Linked DNA regions of Homo sapiens. The protein of the gene in region 2 interacts with the protein of the main gene of each other region in a pairwise test. Each region holds a gene or a part of one and is shown on either strand. Other genes may lie near its edges. The genes, in order: BAG4, KCTD6, CTNND1 and GRB7.

Evidence for each region.
Region 1: the proteins of KCTD6 (region 2) and BAG4 interact in binary tests that used the Homo sapiens proteins (3 or more experiments, as listed by UniProt).
Region 3: the proteins of KCTD6 (region 2) and CTNND1 interact in binary tests that used the Homo sapiens proteins (3 or more experiments, as listed by UniProt).
Region 4: the proteins of KCTD6 (region 2) and GRB7 interact in binary tests that used the Homo sapiens proteins (3 or more experiments, as listed by UniProt).

What each region holds. Positions count from the first base shown.
Region 1 is NC_000008.11:38,207,853-38,213,826, forward strand, and holds the end of BAG4 (BAG family molecular chaperone regulator 4), read left to right. Parts: intron 1-1,160; coding exon 1,161-1,415; intron 1,416-2,155; coding exon 2,156-2,641; 3' UTR 2,642-5,449; downstream 5,450-5,974. UniProt on the Homo sapiens protein: Inhibits the chaperone activity of HSP70/HSC70 by promoting substrate release. Prevents constitutive TNFRSF1A signaling. Negative regulator of PRKN translocation to damaged mitochondria.
Region 2 is NC_000003.12:58,495,070-58,502,096, reverse strand, and holds part of KCTD6 (BTB/POZ domain-containing protein KCTD6), read right to left. Parts: intron 3,733-7,027; exon of another isoform or gene 3,385-3,732; 5' UTR 3,342-3,384; coding exon 3,315-3,341; intron 1,152-3,314; coding exon 465-1,151; 3' UTR 1-464. UniProt on the Homo sapiens protein: Probable substrate-specific adapter of a BCR (BTB-CUL3-RBX1) E3 ubiquitin-protein ligase complex mediating the ubiquitination and subsequent proteasomal degradation of target proteins.
Region 3 is NC_000011.10:57,756,983-57,764,802, reverse strand, and holds the start of CTNND1 (catenin delta-1), read right to left. Parts: upstream 3,002-7,820; 5' UTR 2,684-3,001; intron 1-2,683. UniProt on the Homo sapiens protein: Key regulator of cell-cell adhesion that associates with and regulates the cell adhesion properties of both C-, E- and N-cadherins, being critical for their surface stability.
Region 4 is NC_000017.11:39,734,001-39,740,955, reverse strand, and holds the start of GRB7 (growth factor receptor-bound protein 7), read right to left. Parts: upstream 3,019-6,955; 5' UTR 2,823-3,018; intron 2,605-2,822; exon of another isoform or gene 2,564-2,604; intron 2,186-2,563; exon of another isoform or gene 2,051-2,185; coding exon of another isoform or gene 2,032-2,050; intron 990-2,031; exon of another isoform or gene 775-989; intron 1-774. UniProt on the Homo sapiens protein: Adapter protein that interacts with the cytoplasmic domain of numerous receptor kinases and modulates down-stream signaling. Promotes activation of down-stream protein kinases, including STAT3, AKT1, MAPK1 and/or MAPK3. Promotes activation of HRAS.

The DNA.
Region 1 (5,974 bases), on a different chromosome or scaffold from region 2:
GATTTAATAAGACACTTCTAGATTGGGAAGGCTTTTATATTGATGCCTTTCTTATTTGTGGCAGCTATTGCAGTAAATGGACTTTGGCTGAAGGTCATAATCATAAATTTTTATACTGAAAGTAATCTTTAGAGAGTTGCTGCTTGAAAGTTTCCCTATCTTAGCCTTTTTTTTTTTTTTGTGGCGTGATCTTGGCTCACTGCAACCTCTACCTCCTGGGTTCAAGCAATTCTTCTGCCTCAGCCTCCCAAGTAGCTGGGATTACAAGCACGCGCCATCACGCCCAGCTCATTTTTGTATTTTTAGTAGAGATGGGGTTTCACCATGTTGGCCAGGATGGTCTTGATCTCCTGACCTCGTGATCTGCCCCCCTCGGCCTCCCAAAGTGCTGGGATTACAGGCATGAGCCACCGTGCCAGGCAAATCTTAGCCTTTTTTAGCACCCTGTTAGGTTCTTTTTTTTTTTTTTTTTTTTGAGACGGAGTCTCGCTCTGTCGCCCAGGCTGGAGTGCAGTGGCACGGTCTAGGCTCACTGCAAGCTCCACCTCCTGGGTTCATGCCATTCTCCGGCCTCAGCCTCCCGAGTAGCTGGGACTACAAGCGCCCGCCACCGCGCCCAGCTAATTTTTTTTGTATTTTTAGTAGAGATGGGGTTTCACCTTGTTAGCCAGGATGGTCTCGATCTCCTGACCTCGTGATCCGCCCATCTCAGCCTCCCAAAGTGCTGGGATTACAGGCGTGAGCCACCGCGCCTGGCCAGGTTCATGTTTTTTTAATATTCTGTGAATAACTATGTTTATTTCTCTGTTCACTTCAAGAGGAGTTCTAACATGTCTTTATTTGTGCTTCCTTATAGCATATGGGTCCGTTTGTTTATAGTATCTATGGGACAGACTTGGGTTTCATCCATTGAATTTTTAGGCCTTATTCCTTCTGAGTTTTATTGTCATTAAATCTACCCCTGGTATCTTTGGAACCAACTTTTTGAGGCTTGGAGAAATTACTGCAGCTGATTAATTAGATTTACTACAGTTTAGTCCGGTAGCAGCTAATGTATACTCTGTTAAGAAGAGAGGAAGCATCTCAGAATCTGCCTGTAGCAGAATATTTTTATTATAAGTTTTTCACAATGACTGGTATATTTCTTCTTCTCAATCTAGAACCCTGGAATGACCCTGCCCCATTATCCTTATGGAGATGGTAATCGTAGTGTTCCACAATCAGGACCGACTGTACGACCACAAGAAGATGCGTGGGCTTCTCCTGGTGCTTATGGAATGGGTGGCCGTTATCCCTGGCCTTCATCAGCGCCCTCAGCACCACCCGGCAATCTCTACATGACTGAAAGTACTTCACCATGGCCTAGCAGTGGCTCTCCCCAGTCACCCCCTTCACCCCCAGTCCAGCAGCCCAAGGTAGGAGACCTAAATGTTGTTCCTTTAATGTGTGTGTAATTAGGAGAACATAACATGGTTTATATAGTTTCTGTACTGGTTTGTGTTAAATGGGGACTAATTACAAAAAGTTGGTGACTACTTATCTATAGCTTTACCTCAGCTCGGTTTCCTTTTTCTTTTTTTTAATAGACTTTATATTTAGAGAAGATTTAGATTCACATCGTTTTTGTTAAAAGACAGAAAGATACACATTTTCTGTTTGTTGTAATTCTTCTAAACGTTAAATGCAAAGATGCATTTTACTACTTCAAATAATCTATGAACAGAAGACAAAACCAATGTGAAATATCTGTAGCATGAGCTTGTATTTAAACCACAGACTTGAACATTATCACTTGTGGCTGTGTTCCTTTTCAAGACCTTGCTTGAGGTTTTTAACCTTTTAGGGGAAAAACTAATTCTTATTAATTAGGTCACAGGATGGACTATGAGGTGCTCATGGTGATGGACCTGCCACAGGGCAGGTTCCAGCCATTATAACTCAAAAATTCTGTGCCTTTTGTCTGACAGGGCACTCCCTTTTATCTTCTTAGGACTGTGTTTTTTTGCAAATGATTAAGGAGAGGGGTCCAATTTTATTGTTAGGGAATCTTTTCATGTACCTTTCTGGTCAAGTGAAAGATGTGGGCTAACAAATTTGATGTTGATGCATTCCCATTAAAACAGCTCTTTTCCTCTTTTTGCTCTCCCACTCCAAGGATTCTTCATACCCCTATAGCCAATCAGATCAAAGCATGAACCGGCACAACTTTCCTTGCAGTGTCCATCAGTACGAATCCTCGGGGACAGTGAACAATGATGATTCAGATCTTTTGGATTCCCAAGTCCAGTATAGTGCTGAGCCTCAGCTGTATGGTAATGCCACCAGTGACCATCCCAACAATCAAGATCAAAGTAGCAGTCTTCCTGAAGAATGTGTACCTTCAGATGAAAGTACTCCTCCGAGTATTAAAAAAATCATACATGTGCTGGAGAAGGTCCAGTATCTTGAACAAGAAGTAGAAGAATTTGTAGGAAAAAAGACAGACAAAGCATACTGGCTTCTGGAAGAAATGCTAACCAAGGAACTTTTGGAACTGGATTCAGTTGAAACTGGGGGCCAGGACTCTGTACGGCAGGCCAGAAAAGAGGCTGTTTGTAAGATTCAGGCCATACTGGAAAAATTAGAAAAAAAAGGATTATGAAAGGATTTAGAACAAAGTGGAAGCCTGTTACTAACTTGACCAAAGAACACTTGATTTGGTTAATTACCCTCTTTTTGAAATGCCTGTTGATGACAAGAAGCAATACATTCCAGCTTTCCTTTGATTTTATACTTGAAAAACTGGCAAAGGAATGGAAGAATATTTTAGTCATGAGTTGTTTTCAGTTTTCAGACGAATGAATGTAATAGGAAACTATGGAGTTACCAATATTGCCAAGTAGACTCACTCCTTAAAAAATTTATGGATATCTACAAGCTGCTTCTTACCAGCAGGAGGGAAACACACTTCACACAACAGGCTTATCAGAAACCTACCAGATGAAACTGGATATAATCTGAGACAAACAGGATGTGTTTTTTTAAACATCTGGATATCTTGTCACATTTTTGTACATTGTGACTGCTTTCAACATATACTTCATGTGTAATTATAGCTTAGACTTTAGCCTTCTTGGACTTCTGTTTTGTTTTGTTATTTGCAGTTTACAAATATAGTATTATTCTCTACTTCTTGGTACATTTTGTAGTAATATGTTTAATATAATTATTCAAGAGACTATATTGACAGCCAGATAGTATGGCAGTTCTGAAAAAATTTATATCTTTTCACCACTTGAATATACTGCAATGTGTAGTGAGTAAATTGTCTCCCTTTTTCTATAGATCATTAGGTTAGAGTTTTTTTCTTCTTTTTTTTTTTTTTTTTTTTTTACCACTTCTGCTGTTCATGGTAGTAGTGGAAGGTAAATTTGGAAATGGCATTGACATAAAATGAAAATGTTTACGGACACTTTTCTTTTTTGCTTTTTTATTGTATTTGGATAAAGATCCACTTAAAAGTTATCTGTTTTTTCCTGTTTTTTTTTTTTTTCCCCAAAGTGTAGTTATGTTTTCACTATTGCTGCTTCTATAGAGGGCATTGTGATAGAGAGTTACAGATGAAACATTAAATGCCACAGTGAGTAGAAATAATTACTACAAAAAGTAATAAATATGATTACTTGGTAATATCATTCTCCATCTAAAATACTAGTTTCACCTGTGAGCAGATTTCAGCTCAGTTTATAGTTAAAAACAATGAGGGTAAAATGGGATTCATGCTCAGGGAATGAATCAGCCATAGTTAGAGTGGGAAATTATTATTTTCTTCATTTAAAGGTAGATTTTATGTTTATTTCCCTAAATTGCATAAGATAAAATTGTCTGTTTAATAAAAAGACATTTATTACCATTATTAACAGTCATTTTAGAGCCAAATTTAAGAAAAGGATATTGAAAGGGTCTTTATTGGCCTTGTTTGGGTAACTCTATGCTGTTAGATAGAAGAGACTTAGGTAAATAACTTTTTATGTCTGAGGTGAGTACACAATATTGGTTCTTGGAAAAATAGCTGTTTCTTCATAAGATACCCAAGTGATAATTTTTTTTCCCCTAGACTGTCAGGCCTATGAGTAAATACTAAATCTATTAGCTGTCCCCACTCATAAACCAAACCAAACCAATACAAACAGATGAGGAGAGGAAATGTAGTAAAAATACTGGCTGGGTCTTATGATTGGGATGAGTGATTTTATAAGATAATATGGTGATAATTTTATTCTAGGATTTTATTTTTGGCCTAATATAGGAATGTTTAAAAAAGGCTTTTCTATGAAAATTAGAAATTTATACTTGAAATTAAAAGTCTAGAAGGGGGAGGACCTTAAAGCTAAGCTACCAGTAAGACAATGAATAATTCAGAAGAGAACACTATTCTTTTACTGACTGAGTGCCCAAGATGCCAATTTCCATGAAGTCTTGATTTATATATATGTACACATGTTATGCACATACATGTTTGTTTTCTAACAGTTATTTTTTAAGCTTTTGAGATAATTTTAGACTTACAGAAGAGTTGTAAAAGTAGTAGAGTTCTTGTATACTCTGCACCCACCTTGCCCTTATGTTAACATCTTACGTAACAATAGAACATTTGTCAAAATTAAGAAATTAACCTTGATATAATACTAACTAAAGTAGAAAGTTTAAAAAGTAGAGATTTTAGTCTTTTCACTAATGTCCTTTTACTGTTCCAAGACCCAGCCTTGCATTTAGCTATCATGCCTACGTCCTGTCTTCCAGTCTGTGACAGTGTATCATAACAGGGGATACCTGATGTTGTAATGTATTTCTGGTGTTGTTAACCTTGATCACTATGCTAAGGTGGTGTCTGCTAGGATTCGCTACTGTAAACTTACTGTGTTTTCCTTGTAATTATTGAATATTTGCTGGAGATACCCGGAGACTATGCAAATGTCCCGTTTCTGCTTAAACTTTTGCTCATTTTACTATCCATTGGCAGATCTTGCTTGTGGCAGTTACTACTGTGGTGTTCTAATGGTGATTTTCTATTTCTCTCAATCCTTCTACATTTATTATTGGAATTCTTCTGTAAGGAAGAGTTGTCAGTTCTGGATTTATATTTTTAACTATAATAAGATATTCAGGATAAGTATAGATTTAGAACTTAAAGATGTTAAATCATGTTAAAATTATTCCAAATACCAATATCAAAGAAAACTAAGTTGGTAATCTATCTCAGAAAATATATGAACTTAAGAAGGAAAATAGTATTTATGATTTGTAGAATTGGTTCAACTTTTGACTTAATACTGACTTTGGACTGAATTCAAAGTTTTCTTGAAATTTCACATCTGGACTTTTTAAAGTGTCTACATTTATATTACTTTGGGGATCATTTTGTCAAAGTCTTGAATAAAGTTACCCAGTCCTGGCATGATAAACACAACTATGTTTTTTTTTTTTTATAATAACCCTCTGTTGTTCCAAGTATGAATGCCAATGAAACTGTTTAAACAAATAAGCCCTAATGAAGTATACAGGGGTTGGATTATATGTGTCTCCACATGTTGGTGCAGAATTCTTTTAAATGCTTTTAAAAATGGGGTTCTGAAAACAGTTTTTCAGTTGGTTAATGTAAATAATACCATTAAAGCTAGGCAGGTTAAAAAAATTTTGAAGAATGTAGATTAAATAGGCATAAAAAAGTTTTTGGGGGATGGATAGTTGATGGAGCTTTTCTTTTACAACTTTACTTTTTTTTACTTATTTTTTTAAAAAAGTAAGGAGTTTACCTCAATTCGTAGAAGTTACGAGTTTAAAAAGTCAGTTCTATGAAAGGCAGCATTCTCCTGATCCCACCCCCATTTCTCCTTCTCTAAAGGCAACCACTTTCAACTGAGTTTTTCTTTTGTTAATCAAAAAATTTTGTTTTTAGAGACAAGAGTCTTGCTATGCTGGTCTTAAATTCCTG
Region 2 (7,027 bases):
TTCCTTTAATATTACAATACTACTTATTTATTGGTTTGGAAACTAGGTCACCCTACATGATGTTTTGATTTTTCTCAAAGGCATCATGAGTACTCTGCTTATTCTTTCATTCTTGTATTTTTAGCCTTCTAGTTGAGTTAGGGACCATTTTATCAGAAATCATTTTAGCACTGTAATAAGAAAAGCTCTGTTAAGGGTAGATTATATACCATAATGATTTTCAGACTTCTTTTTATAAAAAAGGTATCTGGAGACTCTGAACAGGCACATGCATACTCAGGGGGAAGGGAACAAAACATGGAGGAGTCTGCCAAAGCACAAAACTTCCTTCTGGTCCTCACTGCCTTCAAATAAATACAACTATTTAAAAGAAAAAAAATATCTCACACTGTGATTTAAAAAAAAAAATCAGTATCTTCCATTTCCTGGAGAGTCTTTCCAGGAACCTGTGGCAGGGTCGGAGATCAGTCGTCTGTCTTCCGGGCTAGCCTACAGAAAGTCCAGTTGTGCTCCACTGTGTTTTCATTGGCCCGCTCACTCATGTGATGCACCCGGGTGTTGCGGATCGTGAAACCTTGTTTTGTAATGTATTCCATCAGGTGGACCCTAAGAGAAACTTCCTGGTGATAATCACAGGGTCCAAAAGTAAAGGAAACCTGGCAGTCTCTGGTGTCCATCATGTGCTTATTCCACTTGGTAAAATAATTTGAGATGCCTTCTAGTAAGGAATGGACCTTAGTGGTGATGGTTAGTTGCGTTATGATGACAGCCACTGGGTTGGAGTACTTAGAAAGCTTCCGAGTACTAGACAGCTCCACAACTTCTTCAAAAGTATCCATGGGATACAAAGGCTTAGGATCATTGAGACACTGAATCAAGGGCTCAATCTGGTAAAAATCTGCTTCTTTCCGAAGCAGATCAAATTCCTTAAAATCCAACGGTAAGGTCAATTCTGAAGTTCTTAAGAAGTTGAGGACATATCGGAAAAGAGGTCCATCTCGATCAATAAAGTAATTGCCTTGAGGGTCTCGAGCTGTGGGGAAGTCCCCCCCAAACATAGCTCCAAGCATGGAATCCGGGTAACGCGTCAATGTGGTGAGAGACGTTGTATACAAGTGTCCACCTACATTTAATGTGACTGGGTCAGTCATCTGAAATTTGTAAAGAAATGATCAGTCATCTGAAATTTTTAAATACTAACTTTGACAAATTAAGAAAGTAAGTGATACTGAGCAAAGCCCAAGATTCTTTCAGGCTATAATGTATTTAGTAATCCTCTAATGCAAAATGACTTTACTACCAGCAATAAACCCACCCAGATGAAGTGATCTAACATTTGCTTTCAATAGAAAAAAAAAGGAGAAATCCAATTTCTCTTTAAAGACTTATGCTAAGAATACAGGGCATTGACTTCCAGAGCCAAATCATTTCAGGCCCATTATCTATAGAGTTTTCAGGCCAGAATATATGTGGGAAGGGAAAAGCCACGCTAAAATACACTTATTTTTTTCTGATTTTTTTTTAAGGCTTGCATTTTTCTGAATTTAATTTAACATTAGATAGAATTAAAATGATCTGATAATATAGACATTTACTTTCAATATTTCTTTGGTTTCTCCCCCTCAAACAAAAGGAACAAACTATGAAATTTGTTTTTAAAATAAAAATTTGGGCCAGGTACAGTGGCTCATACCTGTAATCCTAGCACTTTGGGAGGCCGGGGCAGGCAGATTGCCTGAGCTCAGGAGTTCAAGACCAGCCTGGGCAACATGGCAAGACCCCATCTCTATTAAAAATACAAAAAAAAAAAAAAAAAAATTCACTGGGTGTGGTGGCCTGAGTAGTCCTAGCTACTTGGGAGGCTGAGGTATGAGAATCACTTGAACCCAGGAGGCACAGGCTGCAGTGAGCCAAGATCATGCCACTTCACTTCAGCCTGGGCGACACAGAGAGATTTTGTCTCCAAAAAAAAAAAATTATTTAAATTAAATTAAAAACTGTGCAGACCTAATCTTGGTAACTTTTTCATGGAAGTGATACTTTCAAATACTAAGTTAAAATATACAGTTTAGTCAATACAACCAAGCCAGAAAAGCATCACATACCCAAAAGCTTACAGCAGCCATAAAATTTCATAATCTGATAGTGTATTCACTTTTGTAACATTAATGCTGCAATCTGGCCTTTAATTCTGAGAAGCAAGCTTCTCTTAAAAAACATACCTTCAGTTTTAGAAATACTATTTACGAAAAAAATAGGCCAGGTGTGGTGGCTCACACCTGTAATCCCAGCACTTTGGGAGGCCAAGGAGGGTGGATCACTTGAGCCCAGGAGTTGCTGACCAGCCTGGGCAACATGACAAAACTCCATCTCTACAAAAAATACAAAATATTAGCCACACATGTTGGTGCCCACCTATCGTCTCAGCTACTCAGGAGGCTGAGGTGGGACAATCACCTGAGCTTGGAAAGTCATGAGCCGAGATCACGCCATTGCACTCCAGCCTAGGGAAAAGAGCAAGACCCTGTCTCGAAAAAAAAAAAAAAAAAGGAAGAAAGAAAAAAGAAAGGCAGACAGAGACTTCAGGTATAGGCAAGTAAAATATACCTTACACCAAAGGAATAGAAAAATAGGGAGACATATGCACACACAAAAAATGCAAGTGGGGAGAAGAGGCACTTTCTCAACCATTAATCTCCCAAACCACAACAAAATATCCTCCAAACTCACTAGATCCCTTTGTAGTCACTATTCATGAAGAAAGAGTCTTCAGAGCAACACACTTGAAAAAATAAAAAATCACGTTACCTCTCCAGTGATTATAAAAAGTATTTGGAAAATCCATTTTGAGTTTGATTCCATTAAAACACCAAACAAAGGCAGAGGATCGTTTGAGGTCAGGAGTTCGAGATCAGCCTGGCCAACATGGTGAAACCCCGTGTCTACTAAAAATACAAAAATTAGCCAGATGTGGTGGTGCACGCTGATAATCCCAGCTACTCAGGAGGCTGAGGCAGGAGAATCTCTTGAACCTAGGAGGTGGAGGTTGCAGTGAGCCAAGATCGCGCCACTGCACTCCAGCCTGGGCAAGAAGGCGAGACTCCACATAAAAAAAATTAAATAAAAATTTAAAAAACACCACACAAGACAAAAACGCCTCCAAAATACATCTAAACTAAGTAAAAGGGGGAAGAGAGGTTACACAAATTCACAATTTTCTTTTCTTATAAGATATACCTAAAAATACATAAGGATAAAAAGACACACAAAAATAATTCCCCAGCCTTCAAAATGCATCTCCAAGAAGCACTCACCATATAGCCCCAGTCTCCATTATCCATCTGCTCCAGTGATGCGTCTTCAAGAGCCCAGGTTTCAGGGAAACTTCAAGAGGAGAAAAACAGACATATGATAGCATATATAACTAGGAAAATAGAGAAGAAAGTCTTTTTCCACCCAACAGAGGAGGCCAAACACCAGAAAAACTACTCGTCCTTGCTCAGCTGAAACCTACTACAGGGCAAAGATCTGGGGAAGAAAGCATTCCCCTAGGGCCTTCTACATGTCCTGTATTCTTACCATAGAGAACCCATCTGGAACTAAGAGACTGAAGATTTTCAGAGAAAGAACTATACTGTACTTAAGAGAAGGAGGAAGAGTCTAGGAAGTAACCCAGTCATTCAAATTCTACCTCTCTTCTTAGAACATCAATTTTTAGAATTTATATAAGAGAATATTATGATTAACTCTACAACCTTATCCTGGTACAAACCTATAATGGTCCTCACCAAAAAGGTCATTTAAGAAAAAGGGACAGGCTGGGCGCAGTGGCTCATGCCTATAATCCCAGCACTTTGGGAGGCTGAGGCAGGAGGATCACCAGGTCAGGAGTTCAAGACCAGACTGCCCAACATAGTGAAACCCCATCTCTACTAAAAATACAAAAAATTAGCTGGGCGTGGTGGTGGGCACCTGTAATCCTAGCTATTCAGGAGGCTGAGGCAGGAGCATCACTTGAACCCGAGAGGCGGAGGTTGCAGTGAGCCGAGACTGTGCCACTGCACACCAGCCCCTGCAACAGTGCGAGACTCCATCTCAAAAAAAAAAAAAAAAAGAAAAGAAAAGAAAAAGGGAGAAGGGAAAACTCCTTTTCATCAGCATTTCAGCTATACAAGCCAATCACCTGAGTAAAAACATCAAAAATCATAAACCTCCCAGGATACCAGCATCCCTTTCCAAGAGAAATACATCAGAATGGTATTTATCTTACAATATAAAAAAAAAAGATGATGCTTTTAAATAATGATGTATTTCTCTTTGTACAATTAAAACAAATAGAAAGTGATTTAAATGCCGAAGTGTTAAAGAGCACAATTTGGGGCAAAAAGAACCTTACCGATATAGATGAGAGTCAATCAGCCAGCACTCATGGAGAGCCAGCCTTAAGACACTGAGAAATGCTCAGATACTAATGATGCCAATGTGAATTTATTTTTATCTACAATTCAAAAGCATTTAAACAAACAGTTTCCCAGCTACTGAACTGCCTTAGTCAGTTCCCTCTCACACACTTCAATCCCAAATCAACCTGTAAAGCAAACTGCAGAGCAAATTTCTAAAGCTCTGGCAAGACATGGTAAGAAACATGGACTTATTGGTATTCATCCAGGAAAAGCACTGGCTTTTTTACGTGGTCCTTTAACAGATTCACTTTTCCCACTTTTAGAGGAATCTGGCACAGAATTCCCAGAACAAGCCCTAGCTACAGAAGATCACAAAGGCTCTTTCTCAAAAGGTCACTCAGGCATGTAGAGAACATTTGCATAGCACAGCATGGGCTGAAATCAGAGCCTGAAGCATCTATTTCTCTACCTTGCAAATCCTTCAAAGCACACAACTAAAATGTGGACCAGACTATGGGGCAGTCAGTTTTTATTCTTTACACTCAGCAGTTGGATATAGACAGGCCTCCACATGCTATGGGGTGAGAAATGGAACAAATGTCAAATTCAAGACTGTTATGACAGTCTTTCATTCCTCTGACTTGCTTCACAAATAGTATCCGAAGTAAACAGGACCAAGAAATGGGCTTTGCCAATTTGTCTTGCCAGGATCTGATTCAGTTACTGATAACAACAGATTAGTAACTGAGCAATTTAAAAGGCCACTCATCCAAAAGTTCTGGTAAGATGCTCATCTTTGGCATTTTCCCATCACCCAAAGTATTCATTCTGACAGCCTCAATAATCATTCATTCAGCCAACAATTATTGTGGGTCACCTATGGAGTGGAGGGGGTGCCTATGTGCAATGCGGACACACAGAAAGAGGAAAAAGACAATCTTTGCCCTCATGGAGCTTTCCATCTATAATGGAAGGCAACATGCAATGACTGAAGTACAGAACAGAATTCAAAGTGCTGTATAACAGATGGACCAGCAGAGGCCCGTGAGAGGGGAAAAGCAAGATTTCAAATGGGAAATAGAGGACTTCTGGGAAGAGCCCATTCAGTTGAATCCTTGAAAGAAAATTCGGACAACCTGAGAAGGGATTCTAGAAGGAAGAAACAATTTAATAGACAGGGGCATGAAAGACTTTTTTTCCCCCTACAACATTCCTGATACCAGTAGGCCGAGCAGGGATTACTATCCTCATCTTAAAGATGCAAAACAGAGAAACAAGGCAGATTAAGTGACTAGCTGAGGGCGCCACAGCTGGGAAGTAACTAGATAAGAACTTGCATGTTCTGACTCTTAGTCTAGATTTTTCCATAAATCCCCTCCTAGGGTAGAAATTGAAAGAACAGAATCCAAGAGACAAGAAATTGAAAAAGCTTAACTTTAAACTCTCTATAGCCATCTATTAACCCTATCCATCCAGTAGGGTTTTATTTACAAATTTTACAGTAACTCAGCCTAACTAAACAGTCATAATGGGTTTGTAAAAATTCTCCTGAGGCCCCCCCACCAAAAAAAGGCAGGAACCCATTCAACTAGTGTGAATAACGGTTGCTGTCCTGTCTGTAGTGACATAAAGAACTCCAATCCGTGAATATCCAAATGATTAAATGAGAAACAGAAGATCAAAGACAAGGAAAAAAGCAGACATCAATGTTGCAGCCGTTAACGAAAAGTCTGTCCACTATTAACCCTTTTTTTCTTTTTTACTGCTAAATCAAAACAAGGTAACTTCTTGAGCAGTTATCTAAAAAAAAAAAAAAAAAAATTAGACGATGTCCCTGAATCTGTTCCACAGCAAAAGCAAAAGTTCCGGTACAAAGATGTAATGAAAGCTCACGCTTAATAATTCAGGAAAGCAATTATGGGAATCTACAGCCCATGTTTCTTAAAAACCACCCAAAAGCCTTCCTATACTTGTGTATAAGATACATCAAAATAAATTGAAGCAAAGTTACTATTAGTCACTTCCAATAACAATGAGTAAACTGTCTAAAGAAATCAAATTGTGCATTAAAGAGTTCAAAGGGAAAAAACAGTATTGATTAGTTTAAATTTTATCTCTACCTGCTTCTAAATATCTTCTGTGGAGATGCTTAAATACAGCAAGAAACAAACAAACAAAAAAAAAGCATGAAAAATTCCCTGTTATCCAATAGCTGGATAATGATCGGCTTCTGAATTCTGAATTGACGACCATTAGGAACATCTCTGAAACGATGCAGATGAATGAAATACAATCCCAAAGAATTTCCAGAATAGTTTCAATCTCTTCTACTGAATCATTTTCCAGAGCTACTAACAATTAGAAAATGATTCATTTGCTTTTCATCTTCTCTCCCTTCTGGCACAGTCTCCAGTGGAGGGCTTAATGAGAAGTTAAATGACCACAAGACAGGCAGCAGAAGGAAGATCTTGAAATGGGTATCAAATAGGCCTATTTTACTTGATGAAAGCAAAGAAATATCTAATATTTCAGAAAATCTACCAGGAATGGTAACAATAAAAAATTTTTCCTTTATAGTGACTTTCCTTACTAAAACTAAAGATGGTTTTGAAAGACAGCAAATG
Region 3 (7,820 bases), on a different chromosome or scaffold from region 2:
TTCTCTCTGGAGAATGGCAGTATATTAGTGGTTAAGTCCATGGACTTTGTAGTTAGTCAGACCAGGGTTAATCCTGGCCTCAACCATTTACAGGCAGTGAGATTTTCACCAAACCTCAGCTTCTCTGAGGGTCAAATTCCTTAAAAAACAAAACAAACAAAAAAACCAGTGGTGGGAAATTAATAGTTTATGCAAAATGCTTAGAATACACTAAAAACAAGGTGTGGGGAGGTAGGGGGGAATGAGGGCCTTGGCAGTTACTAACAGGGTACCAAAATAGAAGGAGATAAATTATACAAAGCTAATCATTTTGTTATTCCAATTGATAGTGATCTATGCTTAATTTATTTGCATCCATCCTATCTCATTCATCCCTGGAGAGCAGCTACTTCATAAACCTAAGGCTGGATTGTAATTACTTAGTGCTTTTCTTTTTGTTAATATCACCAATAGTCTCAATTTTACCCTAGCTCAGAGAACATGTTGGAGCTTCTCTGACTGTCCATGCTGGAACCCTGAGAAAGGTACTAGAACTCCAACCACCTAAAAGAGAACCGCCCCCCCGCCCCGCAATCTGGAACACAGACCACTACCTTACTCACATAACAAAGAAACCAACCGTACATAGGAGGCAAACAAGGAAAGAAATATCTGAACAGCTCATACTTACCTATCATCATTTTTTACCCCAAAACCAAGACAATGAGCAAAACAAAAAATTTAAAAAATAAAAGATTTACTTATCTGCATCCCTTATAATTCCTGAAAGAACCAGTGGAGGTGAGGTAAAAGACAAATCTTCCATCTTATCACCCCAAAGGCTCTGTACTACACACCAGTCAAAACAACCCTTAGTTCGTGGAAATAGTCCTGGACACTAGGTTAACTAGGATGCTCACTTCAGCTACACAAAGCCCACTATTTAAAGCTAGACCCAAATCACCACCACTCAGTCATCCAGAACCTATTTTCAAACTGCCTTTGTACTCCTCCTTCAGATTCCCTCATCCCTCCCCCTAAAGGTTGAGTGGGAAACAGACACTCTGGAAGCAACATGACCAACACTCTAAAGATCCAAGAAACCTCCCCAGGCTGGAGTCAAGGCAGAGAGAACATTTGAAAGAAAATTTGGAAAATATTAAACAAGAACTACAGTTCAACAGCCTATACACATTGTATTTTTTCTTTCTTTTTAACTGTACTTGTTATAATTATGAGATTCAGACATCAAAAATTTCCTGCAGCCTTTGCCTAGGTTGTATTTGAAGGAGGAACAAAGTTCTGTTTCCTCCTGAAGCCACAACTTCACAAGGATGAAATCGTCTTTCAAGAAATACCCTCATTCTAGAAAAGAAATTCAAGGAAGTCTAGTCTTAAAAAAATTTGTGGCAGGGGGGTGAGGGGAGAACGAAATCAGATTATTAAAGATCCATACCAGTTTAAAGCTAATGAGCAGCTTACACACTAAAGCCCATCTTGTTACAATTAGGACAGCATCTATAATTTTCAGGCGGATTCACATTTTCAAAAAGAGAAGAGAATACCCTAGTTTTTCAGCTACTGATGAGTTGGCTATATAATTATCTAGAATCCGTACTTTTGCAAGAATGTATTTGCAAAAACAAAACAAATCTTAAGATTAAATATAAGATATGAAAGCACAGTCATGGGCCTTCAGCTCTAAGAGATTTCAGATTTCATGGTAAATTAACTAAACAATAAATTCAACTCCAAAAAACAACTTTCAGGTTGGTTTAAAAATAAAAATCTCCCTTGTTTTCTGAAATGTATTTTAAACACTAAACTTTGTATAAATGGTTTTTCTAAACCTAATTTTATTCCACCCTTGGCCCTTTCAGAGTGCAAAAAGCTGAAAATATTTTCAGGTATGTTGCCACTTTACTCAGGTGAAATAAAAAGCATGATTAGAATTTCCTTATCCCTTTAAACACATAAACCAAACGTTATCGTATTTGCAGATTTAACAAACACCTCCACAAATCTTTGCTATCAAAGGTAGTTTAGAAGGAAGAAGGAGATGGCAATTCAGTTAACATGGTTCCATTTGTTTTCTTTTATAAGCCAAAGAAGGGAGACTACATCTAGCAGGAGAATGAGGCTCCCACCCACCGCACCTGGAAAAGTAAGAGGGATCCACCCAGGAACAGCAGGGCTGAAACCGATACGGGCCGTTCAAACTCTCTGGGGGAAAAACAATACCATTTACACTGCAAAGCTCCCTGCAACTTTCCACTTCCACAAATCCAATGATAAAAGAAAAAAAAAGTTTTAAACATATGAAGAACCATCGGTATAACTGGGTTCCGACACGGACAAATTTCTTTCCCAACCCACATGCAACATGCCAAAAAACCAACTTTTGATTTGGGCTCTGAAAACAGAAATATGTTAGCTTAATCCAGAAAAATAAATAAATAAAATCAAAGAACACACCAAAATGTAAATTTTCAAACCTGCTCTTACCCCTCTGGATCTATTCAGCTTCCTGTATTAAAGAGACCTAGAAGTTTGTTTCTAGGTCTTGTATATTTTACCTTTTTAAATATAATAAAATACCAAAATCTCCCCCGCCAAAGTACTGAAAGTAGAAAAGAAAAATAATTGCTTAAAAGTTACTCATCAGCATAACAGACTCTCCCGTTTTTTAATTCCCTCCGGTTACCGTAAGACAAAAATTCGACTTGCTTATCCTCCTTTTCCCGTCAGTACATACATTTTCTTCAAAAGCCACACACCTCAAATGTGGAGTTCTAAAAATCAGTCCTTTAAGAAAGAAACCCAAGGCTTCGCCAAGGTGCTGAGAAAGACAAATCCAGCAGGGCAGTTGATTTTTCGCCACCTCTTCCTCCTTTCGGGATCTTTCCTGCTCTTCTTTCTCTCTCTCTCCCTCTCTCTTTTTTTTCCCCCTCAGATCCAACACCTAAAATGGAAGTTGCACCCAGCCAAAGGCAAGGGAGCCTGGGTGGTGACAAACTGATCTGGCAGCCCTACCCCCTTCGCTTTCCTAAGTGATGTCAGCCCCTGTGAGCTTCCAATAGGAACCAGGCATAAATCAGGGAGCTGACCTTATCCAATAGGAAACTTTATTATAGAAAATTAAAAAAAAGAGAGGAGAGAAAGACAGGGGGAAGTTTATACATATATATATTTATATTTATATATTTATATTTAAAGTGGAGAGACTGTACAATCTCTGAGGAATTACTGCAGAGCTGAGGGGGGCGGAAGAGGCAAGGGAGACAAGGAACAAGGGCTTTTTAGAATGGTACGCCTAAGTCTCAGTTCTCTTTGATGATGAGTTCTTGCTCCCTCTTCTGTACTATCCCAGTGGGGAAATAGAAAAGAGCTGATTTTACTTGCCTGCTGCTGTTTGGTTTGTTGCTTCCTACCCCAAAGCATTTCCCTAAAGGAAGACGGGAAAGAAAGGAGAGAGAAATCCTAAAAACAGGACTACTATATGTTGACTGGGATGGTAGGGGATATCTGAGGTAAACTCAGTTTCACTGTTTTGGATTAATTGCATTAGAGCTATTTTTTTTTTTTTTTTTTGAGATGGAGTTTCGAGCCCAGGCTGGAGTACAATGGTGCGATCTCAGCTCACCGCAACATCCGCCTCCCAGGTTCAAGCGATTCTCCTGCCTCAGCCTCCCGAGTAGCTGGGATTACAGGCATGTGCCACCATGCCCAGCTAATTTTGTATTTTTAGTAGAGACGGGGTTTCTCTATGTTGGTCAGGCTGGTCTCGAACTCCTGACCTCAGGTGATCCACCCGCCTCGGCCTCCCAAAGTGCTGGGATTACAGGCGTGAGCCACCACGCCCCATCTAGAGCTATTTTTTTTTTTAATGCCTAGACTTGTTAACAGTTTTAATCTCCATACTTTGAATTAGAAGGAAGCAGAATCCACTGGGCTGTTAAAGAAAATCACTGTCTTCCCAATTTGTCCCCAAATCAAAATAATGTGGGTTTGTTGGAAAGAGGAAATGAAATCCAATAAACAAGCAATATATTTAGAGGGAATAACAGCATAGGTAAAGAAAGTAAATCTCATGTCAAGAACATTTTATGCCGGGCGCGGTGGCTCACGCCTGTAATCCCAGCACTTTGGGAGGCCAAGGTGGGCGGATCACCTGAGGTCAGGAGTTCGAGACCAGCCTGATCAACATGGAGAAACCCTGTCTCTACTAAAAATACAAAATTAGCTGGGCGTGGTGGTGCATGCCTGTAATCCCAGCTACTCGGAAAGCTGAGGCAGGAGAATTGCTTGAACCGGGGAGGCAGAGGTTGCGGTGAGCTGAGATTGTGCCATTGCACTACAGCCTGGGCAACAAGAGCGAAACTCCTGTCTCAAAAAAAAAAAAAAGAACATTTTATTTCTTTGTGAACTTCAAGCTTAAGATGATCTAGCTTATACATTCTCTTTTTACATTTGACCTAAATAAAGGATTATTGGGGTATTATTTTTCTGAGTTAGGACATATTTTTAAACTGTTAGACCATGATGGACAGAGGCTGGATTTTTTTTTTAACATGCTTGACAAAGATTAGCATTTTATGGTTATTCCCTGATTACTAAAACAAAGACAATGATGAATCAAAGATTTCCTTCTTCTTTCTTACTAATCTAAAACTTACCCTATAGACTGCTGCCAAATGAGTCTTCATCAAGTTATCAAAATCTAGAATAGAAATACGAAACCTTGGCTGGGCACAGTGGCTCACACCTGTAATCCCAGAGCTTTGGGAGGCCGAGGTGGGTGGATCACCTGAGGTCAAAAGTTCGAGACCAGCCTGACCCAACATGGCGAAACCCCGTCTCTACGAAAAATACAAAAATTAGCCGAGTATGGTGGTGGGTGCCTGTAATCCCAACTACTCGGGAGGCTGAGGCAGGAGAATCGCTTGAACCCAGGAAGTGGAGGTTGCAGTGAGCCGAGATCATGCCATTGCACTCTAGTGTAGGTGACAAAGCAAAACTCCGTCTCAAAAAAAAAAAAGAAAGAAATATGAAACTTTAAGAGTATAGGTTTTCACAAACTGCCTAGCTTCAAACTCCACCTCTGTAAGTAAGTACACTTACTCAAATATATGTACTATTATGTGACCTTGACCCAAATTAAATAATCTGAACCTCAGTTTCCTTAACTATAAAATGGAGATAACTATATCTCTCTCACAAGACTGTTGTGGGAATTAAAATACACAAAAAGTTCTTTGGGCCAGGCACCGTAGTTTAAGCCTGTAATCCTGGCACTTTAGGAGGCCGAGGCAGGCGGATCACCTGAGCTCCGGAGTTCCAGACCAGCCTAGCCAACAGGGCAAAATCCCGTCTCTACTAAAAATACAAAAATTAGCCAAGCGTGGTGGCGCACACCTGTAGTCCCAGCTACCCAGGATGCTGAGGTGGGAAAATCGCTTGAACCCGGGAGGCAGTGAGCTGAGCTCGTGTCACTGCACTACAGCCTGGGCAACAGAGCGAGACTCCGGTTCAAAACAAAAGTTCTTAATGTATGGCATGTAGTATAAACTCACTAAGAATGCATTATCATTATTTTTATTATTCAGTAACTACCCTGCCCAAAAACTTGCAGTGGTGAGCCACTGCCCAATAATAGCAACCAATGATGAAGTGTCTACCATGTAAGAGGTATTTTGAGCTCAGTACTTCAAACTTCTAAAACATGACCACAGAAATAGTACTACAACCATTCTACAGATGAGGAAATCAAGGTCCAATAAGGTGAAGAAATTTGCCTGATCTCATCTGGCTAAGTGAACCCTCACCAGTCTCACTCCACAGCCCATGCTCTTTCTATTACGTTACACTATGGTCAAGATAAAGGTCAAGAGAAATCCTAGAAACAGGACTACTGTATGTTGACTGGGATGGTAGGGGACTATCATCTGCTTTGAAGGCACCACATTTATTCATTCAGTACATTAAAGTAACACATTATCAACCATAATCTGACCTTTCTTTACCTAGATAAACTAGAATTCAACAACTCAGCATGAATGTGCTTTTAATCATGCTGATGTAGTCATTATCCACTCCCTTATATATATGGTCTATAGTCTCATAGACCTATATTTGGTCTATAGTGGCCAAAAAGGACTTTCCTCAGAAGTGTTGAAAAACCAAACATGCATTACAGCACTTGTTTGATGGGCTTTAAATAAACTACAGCTGAAAATGAATACATTATAACAAAGATATGAACAGCCTTTAAGCCTCATTACCTAAAAATCTTCTCCTTTTATCACATTTTCTACCTCTATTCCCCATCAATTCCTAGTCCTCCATAGCAAGTTCAAAAGCCAAAGATAATCACCAAAGGAAAACAACCAGCCCAAAAATGTTTGTTGATTCATTGATTCCGAGATCAAAGCCACATACTAGAATGTTACATGATTTTCTACAGACAGATTGGTCTTGTTTGTTGAAGACATCACTACTCACAACTTGCAAGTATTTTGTCTTCCTTTTTCTTTTGTTTTCATTTGTGTGTATGTATACTTCTGTCTCCCCCATCAGAAGATAAGCTCCATGGGCTGGGCGCAGTGGCTCAACGCCTGTAATCCCAGCACTTTGGGAGGCCAAGGCAGGCAGATCACGAGTTCAGAAGTTCAAGACCAGCCTGGTCAACATGGTGAAACCCCGTCTCTACTAAAGATACAAAAAATTAGCCGGGCTTGGTGGCACACCACCTGTAATCCCAGCTACTCGGGAGCCTGAGGCAGGAGAATCGCTTGAACCCAGGAGGCAGAGGTTGCAGTGGGCTGAGATTGTGCCATTGCACTCCAGCCTGGGTGACAGGGTGAGACTCTGTCTCAAAAAAAAAAAAAGTTCCATGAATAGTGTCTTTTTTGCTCATGGTCTATCCCCAGAGCTCAACCTTGTAACTCATATTTAGCAACAACTAAATGAGTGAATAAAGTCTCTTAGCTTGCTAGTTATATATGCCTGGTCAAGGTATTTAAAATTAATGAACATTTAAAATAGGCCGGGTGTGATGGCTCATGCTTGTAATCCCAGCACTTTGGGAGGCCAAGGCAGGTGGATCACTTCAGGTCAGGAGTTCGAGACCAACATGGCCAACATGGTGAAACCCCTTCTCTACTAAAAATACACGCGGGGCATAGTGGTGCATACCTGTGGTCCCAGCTAATTTGGGAGGCTGAGGTAGGAGGATTGCTTAAGCCCAGGAGTTCAAGGCTGCAGTGAGCTGTGTTTGTGCCACTGCACTCCAGCCTAGGTGACCACAAAGTGAGACCCTGTCTCAAAAATAAAATAAGGCTGGGTGCAGTAGCTCACACCTCTAATCCCAGCACTTTGGGAGGTCAAGGCAGGTGGATCACCAGAGATCAGGAGTTCCCAACCAGCCTGACCAATGTGCTGAAACTTCATCTCTACTAAAAAAACAAAAATTAGCCAGGTGTGGTGTTGCACCTGTAGTCCCAGCTACTCGGGAGGCTGAGACAGGAGAATTGCTTGAACCCAGGAGGTGGAGGTTGCAGTGAGCCAAGATTGCGCCTGCACTCCAGCCTGGGCGACAGAGTGAGACGCTGTCTCAAAAATAAATAAAATAATAAATAATAAAATAAAATAGGCTAAAACTATAAATGCCAAGAAGAAATTTTAAAAATTCAACTCCAAAAACCCCACTGGTTATCCATACAAAGAAAAACAAAATATTTTTACTCCTTTCCACCCTCTGGTGGTTACACATTACAATCAAAGTTTGTCATTTTTGAAGCCCTGGATAGGATGGCCATTTATCAATCCCTTTAGAAGTTCTT
Region 4 (6,955 bases), on a different chromosome or scaffold from region 2:
GCCTGTTCTCCAAACACTGGGCCAGTACTATGAGGCCACCTGGGGCACCTGGGATTGACCCCTCAGGAGGGAGCAGGCACCTGACCCTTCAGTGAGGGCATCAGGGGATTTGGGGGACAGGTGAGTCAGGGCGGGCGGGACAACACTGCCTAGGGCTCTCCATTCAACCTTGACTCATCCACACAACTTCCTGGCTTAGGAGAAACAAAAACAGCCCTGCCTCCACCCTTCCCCCAACTCCCCAACCCACTGCTAGCCAGAGCGGAATGGGGGAGGCACGGGGCTGGGAACAGGATGGGGGAGGAGGATGTGGGCCTGAGGCTCCTGACATCACCTCCTCCTCCCCACCCTCGGCCTAGCTCCAGGCCAGGTGGGACCTACGATCTGCTCTCACCCCCAGTCCCAAACCACCTCCTCGCCAGGGAGTCCCTCGCCTGGGAAGGAGAGAGGCAATGCCCGGCCTGGATTCAGAGGCCCATTTGGAGAGAAGCCAGCATCCCGGCGGTGCCCCTCCCCACCCAAAGCATCGCTCAGAGCCCCTGCCCTGTGTGGATGAAGTTCCTCCTGACACATTCTCCTGGGTGTCCCGGCCAGAGGGGTACCACAGGAGCAGGAGTGGAAAGGGAAAACACTCAAGAAGACAGACAGGATGAAAGGCCAGGGAGGGGGCTCAGGGTCCTGCCAGGAGGGGCACGACACACCCATCACCCGCTAGCAAGAGACACCAGCACCTCAATACCAGAACACAATCCCCCACTCCCACCCCAGTCTAACCTCCAAACAGCCCCGGTCTCCAAACAGCCCCAGTGACTTCATTCCAGGCTGCAGGGGGCCACGCCTGCCTCGAAATCACAGACCAACAGTGGGGTGGGGAGAGGAGCAGAGAATTCGGGAGGGCAGTGCTTGGAAGGGGTTAGAAGTAGATTCAAATCACATTAGAGCCTGGCCTCAGAGATCAGAGAGGGCCAGTCCAAGGCTGGGGTTTGCCTTCAGAGCCCCCCAGCCGTGCCCTTAAGCTTCTAAGGCTGGAGGCGGGTGGAATCGTCAAGACCAATGGGGTGAGCAGGGAGGAGGAAGGGGTCCTGGCTGTGGGCCTGGCAGCTTAGAGATCTGGAGTTTTCAAACTGAGGCCCCGGTAAAGCTTCGGTTGGAAACACCGACCCCCAAAATCAGTTTGTCCCCTCAACGAGGTAACTCCGTCCGTGGCTTCCCAGCTGCCTCCTCCCCCAGTGGTTCCAGCCCCACCCGCGTTCCCGTCCTCCCAACCTCCTTGTTTACTTCCTGAATCACGCCCCACCTGGCTGGCCCTAAGGGCAGGTGGCGGGGCCCGGTGTTCAGGGCCAACAGAAAACAACTCTGCTTCCCAGAGCAGGGGGAAGGGCTTGCGGGACTGAGGCCTGGGCCAGGGGCCTGGATGTGGCGGGAGAGCCCCCGTCCGCCCAGTACTCCACGCCCCGCCCCCACGGGAGAGGCTTATAATTTTTTAGGGTGCAGGGCCCAGGTGAGAAGGTGAGAAACCCCTGGATGACTCCTAGTATAAGGGAGGACCCAGGACTCTGAGGCCCCGCCCACTCTCACTCAGGAAAAATACCCAATGGGAGAAGGCGGGGCAGCTCTTTTAAAGTTTAATTCGGGAAGAATGCTGGAGTGTCTCTGCAGTTAATCATTACAGGCTGCCCGCCTCCATGAGGTCCCCCCACCAAGCATACAGTAGGATATCAGGAGAGGGGAGAGCAGAGTCCAAGACCGGCGGACCAAAAGAGGGCATTCCTGGGGGGCGGTGCGGCTAGTTGGGGGGCGGGGTGGGGGGCGTTCCACCTTGCCGGCAGATGCATTCATTCTCTGTCCTCAATCTGCCAGGGAGACCCAGACCGGGAACCTGGGTCTCTCCCTAGCCTCATCAAGCAGAAGAAACCATCTGCTATCCCCCACCCCACTCTCCCCAGGCCCCACCGCACTGCAGAGCCCCTCATACACCCCTCCAGCCTTCCTGCCCATTTCATGCTGAAGCCAGGAGGGACCCCGTCTCACCCGGCCTCCACTTTCCCATCGGAGGGCCGGAGGCGGTGTTGCTGAGAAGGGCATACAATCTGGAGAGATGAAGCCTCGACAATTTAGAGGATCCCTCTCCTTCACTGCCCTCCAAAGTGGAGGGGGCCCTCCCCACATCTCCCCGCAGCCCGCAGAGACGTCTGTCTTAGAGACTTGGGGAAACCCAAACTGGGGTAAACTGGGCGAGCCAGAGAGTGAGGGCGGCTCTCCCCGGGTGTGCGGGGAGGGGCTAGTTTCAGCGGGAAAGCCAAGTCGGAGGAGAGAATCAGGTCTTCCTTCCCATTCTCAGCTGCTGCCTGCAGGGAGGTGTACAGGGAGGGAACAAGGAGCGCTGGAAACCAGGATGGGGACGAAAAGAGGGCGGGTGGGGAGGAGGGGGCAGGGTGGGAAATGGACAGAAAAGAGAAAAGTGGGAGGCCAAGCAACCCATCAGGAGACCCAGCCTTTCCCTACCGGCCTCCAGACCGGCCGTGCCTGCCCCCAAAGGATAAATGCCCGCTTGGGTTCTTACCTGAACCCCGAGCGTCAGGACACCCGGCTGGGACCACGTCTTCAGGGAGGGAGACGCCAGGCCCTTAACTACCTGTCCCCCTCCAGCCCCCGCCCCTGGCCTGACATCACCGAGCGGGGGAGGGGGAGAGCCAGGTGGCTCCAATCCTCCCACCTGGGCCGCCGGCCAGTTCAGCCGGAGACTGGCACAGCCTGGGGCCCTGGTGCGGCTGGGGGTTGCCTGGCAGGCTGTCGTCTGAGACCGATCTCGGTCCCCTTACCTGGAGGAGCCCCAGCAGGAGTAGCAGGACACCCGTTCCGAAGTCTGGCTCCGTCTAGGAACCCCCAGATTCCTGGATTTTATTTCAGATCCACTCCCGCTTCTCTACAGGTGGTAGGAGGGTGTCCCGACTTCGGACAGAGAAGTCAGAGGCGGGGGGGAGCCCTGTGTGTCCAGATTCCAGGCCCAAGGAAACTAAAATTATCTTGGGCAGATGGGGGCGGGTCCAGGGGAGGCGCCTGGGAGGAGGAAACCTGGGAGGAGGGCGGAGACTCCCTGACTACGCCAACTGGGATTGTTTTTGCCCTTCCTAGCCTGGCAGCAGGTGCCAAGGGAGGATGCAGGTGCCTGGGGAGAGGCGGGGAAGACAGCCGAACAGACAGTACCACGAGCGAAGATCAAGAGTCCCGACCACCTGGGAGGGAGGGGGGAGGGCCTGGGGGCTGCAAGGTAAGGGGAACCACCCCATCCACTCTTTTCCAACACCCTCCCCGAACCTGGTCTGTTCATTGGCCAAGCCTGGGGGCCTGTCTGCAGCTCTGGATCCCACCCCATGGGGCAAAGAGCACCCTGCCGAGAGGGACGCCAGCCAGGGTGGTGTCCAGCAACATGGCCTGCCCCTCGATCTGCAGTCACCCTTACCGTGGTGGCTGCGCCCTGGCCCCTCAGAGGTACCCAGGGTAAGCCCTCCCTCCCCCGCCCCCCACCTTCTGAGCAAAGTCCAGAGTCTTGGCTTCTCCTTTAAAATCGAGGGGGTTAGGCAGGGTGGCACAGTGGGAGGAGCCATGGTGACCTGGAGAAAGCTCTGGCCTGGGCCCCTGGGGATTCCTCTTAGAGGGATCACTTTATTTTATTTTTTTTTGAGCCAGAGTCCCGCTCTGTCACCCAGGCTGGAGTGTAGTGGTGCCATCTTGGCGCACTGCAAACTCTGCCTCCCAGGTTCAAGCAATTCTCCTACCTCAGCCTCCGGAGTAGCTGGGATTACAGGCGCCTGCCACCACACCCAGCTAATTTTTGTATTTTTAGTAAAGATGGGGTTTCTCCATGTTAACCAAGTTGGTCTTGAACTCCTGACCTCAGGTGATCTGCCCACCTCGGCCTCCCAAAGTGTTAGGATTACAGGCATAAGCCACCACGCCCGGCCTGAGGGAACACTTTAGTTCTCTCAGGGATCACTTTAGCTGTCTCATTCAGTGCTGGGCAAACACAGGGTACTTGGGAGAGGGGTTAGGAGGTGGAGATCAAAGGCTGCGGCCACCACCCAGCTTGATGTGGGTGACAGGAAAACAAACAATCCTTAGGGTGATAAGAGGTCCACCCTGGAAGGGGCACGAATGAGTGGCTCCTGCCTCAATTTTCTCCAGAGTTTTCCTAGGAAAACCGGTATGAGTGGGCCCAGCAAAGAAGTGGGGGAGGAGGCAAGGTCTCTTTGGTGATGGAGCAGCTTGTGCAAAGGCAGAGTAGACAATTCACTCATTCATTTATTCAACTATCTGTTTAGTACCTACCATATGCCAGCCCCATGTTTTGTGCTGGGGATACAGGCGTAAACAACAAAAACAGACCCCGCCCATCCTCACACAGCCAATCAGGAAGATTGATGTTAACCAAAGAATCACACAAATAAGAAATGACAGGAGACAACTATGCTGGGAAAATGACTCACATAGGGAGTCAGGAAAGACTTCTCAGTGGAGGTGACAGCTGAGCAGAGGAGAAGCTGGCTGACATGGGAAGGGGGTTGGAATCGGTGGATGGGAATTGGGGAAGGAGGCCACTTTCCCCAGTGAGGAAATCAATGCCAGAGCTCTGGGCAGGAGGAGATGCAGCATGCGGAGACAGAGAGTGGGGTTGGAGGAGAAGGGAGGAAGCAGAGGCCACGTGGGTGAACCTGGACAGGTGTGGAAGGTGTGGAGAGAGGAAGCTGTGCTTCTGCAAATGTGGCCTCTAGACCTCCCTAACCTTGTGTGGAAAATAGATTCTTGGGCTCCTCTCCAGCAACTGAATCTCAGTCTCTAGGGCTAAGACCCAGGAAGGTGTGGTATTGACAAGCCCTCAGGTGGCTGTTCTGCAAACCAGGTTTGAGAGCCATCCATCCTGTTTGTCCAGATGGGCAGGAGTAGCGGTCAAAGACCAGACCCTGCAAGTTGTATTTAGACTTAAGTAGAAGCACAGAGGAGAGGGCACATTTACATTTTGGAAAGATCATCCTGGATATTGAAGGATGGGATGGAAACAAAGCCACAGTCAGAGGGCGGAGTGCTGTAGGAATCAACTTATATGGCTTTCTGGAGCGGGTGGAACTGTGTGAACAAAAACCAGGTCTGGGGTTGGGGAGGAGGGAGAGGGGTCCACAGTAGGGGGCACAGGGACTTGTGAGAGGTGATGGGACCATACTGTATCTTGGTTTTGGGGTTGGATGCACAAATGTGTGTGTTTCTTAGGACTCATAGAAAGGCACACTCAAGGCTGGGTGCGTGGTTCACCCCTGTAATTCCAGGACTTTGGGAGGCTGAGGCAGGTGGATCACGAGGTCAGGAGTTCAAGACCAGCCTGACCAACATGGCAAAACCCCGTCTCTACTAAAAATACAAAAATTAGCCGGGCGTGGTGGCGTACGCCTGTAATCTCAGCTACTCAGGAGGCTGAAGCAGGAGAATCTCTTGAACCCACGAGACGGAGGTTTCAGTGTGCTGAGTTCGAGCCATTGCACTCCAGCCTGGGAGACAAGAGCGAGACTCCATCTCAAGAAAAGAAAAAAAAAAGAAAGGTACACTCAAGAGGATGAATTTTACTGTGTATAAGTTGTATCTGAATTTAAAAACAACAACAACTATAAGGCCAGGTACGGTGGCTAACACCTGTAATCCCAACACTTTGAGAGGCCGAGGCAGGTGGATCATGAGGTCAGGAGTTCGAGACCAGCCTGGCCAACATGGTGAAACCCCGCCTCTGCTAAAAATGCAAAAATTAGCTGGGCATGGTGGTGTGCACCTATAATTCCAGCTACACAGGAGGCTGAGGCAGGAGAATTGCTTGAACCCAGGAGGCGGGGGTTGCAGTGAGCTGAGATCGTGCCACTGCACTCCAGCCAGGGTGACAGAGCAAGACTCCGTCTCGGGGGAAAATAATAATAATAATAAATAAGAATGCGTTTATAGGTCAATGGAACAGAATCCAGAGTCCAAGTAGAAACCCTTACATTTCTGGTCAATTGATTTTACAAGGTGCCAAGACAATTTCATGGAGGAAAGGATAGGCATTCAATAAATGCTGCTGTGATCAATTGGATAGCCACATGCCAAAAGGTGAATTTAGATCTTTTGCTCACAGGATGCATAAGAAAAAAAAAACTTGAAATAGATCAGATACCTGAATGTAAGAGCTAAAACCATAAAACTTCTAGAAGAAACCATGGGAGATAGTCTTCATGACCTTGGGTTAGGCAGAGAACTTGAATATAACAGCAAAAAGACAACTGACAAGAGAAAAAAATTGATGTTAGACTTTGTCAAAATTTAAAATTTTTGCACTTCAAAAGCCACCATTAATAAGAGGCCAGGAGGCCGCGCGCAGTGGCTCACACCTGTAATCCCAGCACTTTGGGAGGCCGAGGCGGATGGGTCACCTGAGGTCGGGAGTTCAAGACCAGCCTGGCCAACATGGAGAAACCCCATCTCTACTAAAAAAAAAAAAAAAAAAAAAAAAAAAATACAAAATTAGCCAGACATGGTGGTGCATGCCTGTAATCCCAGCTACTCGGGAGTCTGAGGCAGGAGAATCGCTTAAACCCAGGAGGCGGAAGTTGCAGTGAGCCAAGATGGTGCCATTGCACTCCAGCCTGGGCAAGAAGAGCAAAACTCCATACGAAAAAAAAAAAAAAAAAAAAAAAAAAAAAGAAGGGGTCAGGCATGGTGGCTCATACCTGTAATCCCAGCATTTTGGGAGGCTGAGGCAGGTGAATCGCTTGAGCCCAGGAGTTTGAGACCAGCCTAGGCAACCTGGCAAGACCTCATCTCTACAAAAGATATAAAATCTATCCAGGCATGGTGGTGCGGGCCTATAGTCCTAGCTACTTGGTGGGGCTGAGGTGTGACAATCACTTGAGCCTGAGAAGTTGGGGCTGCAGTGAGC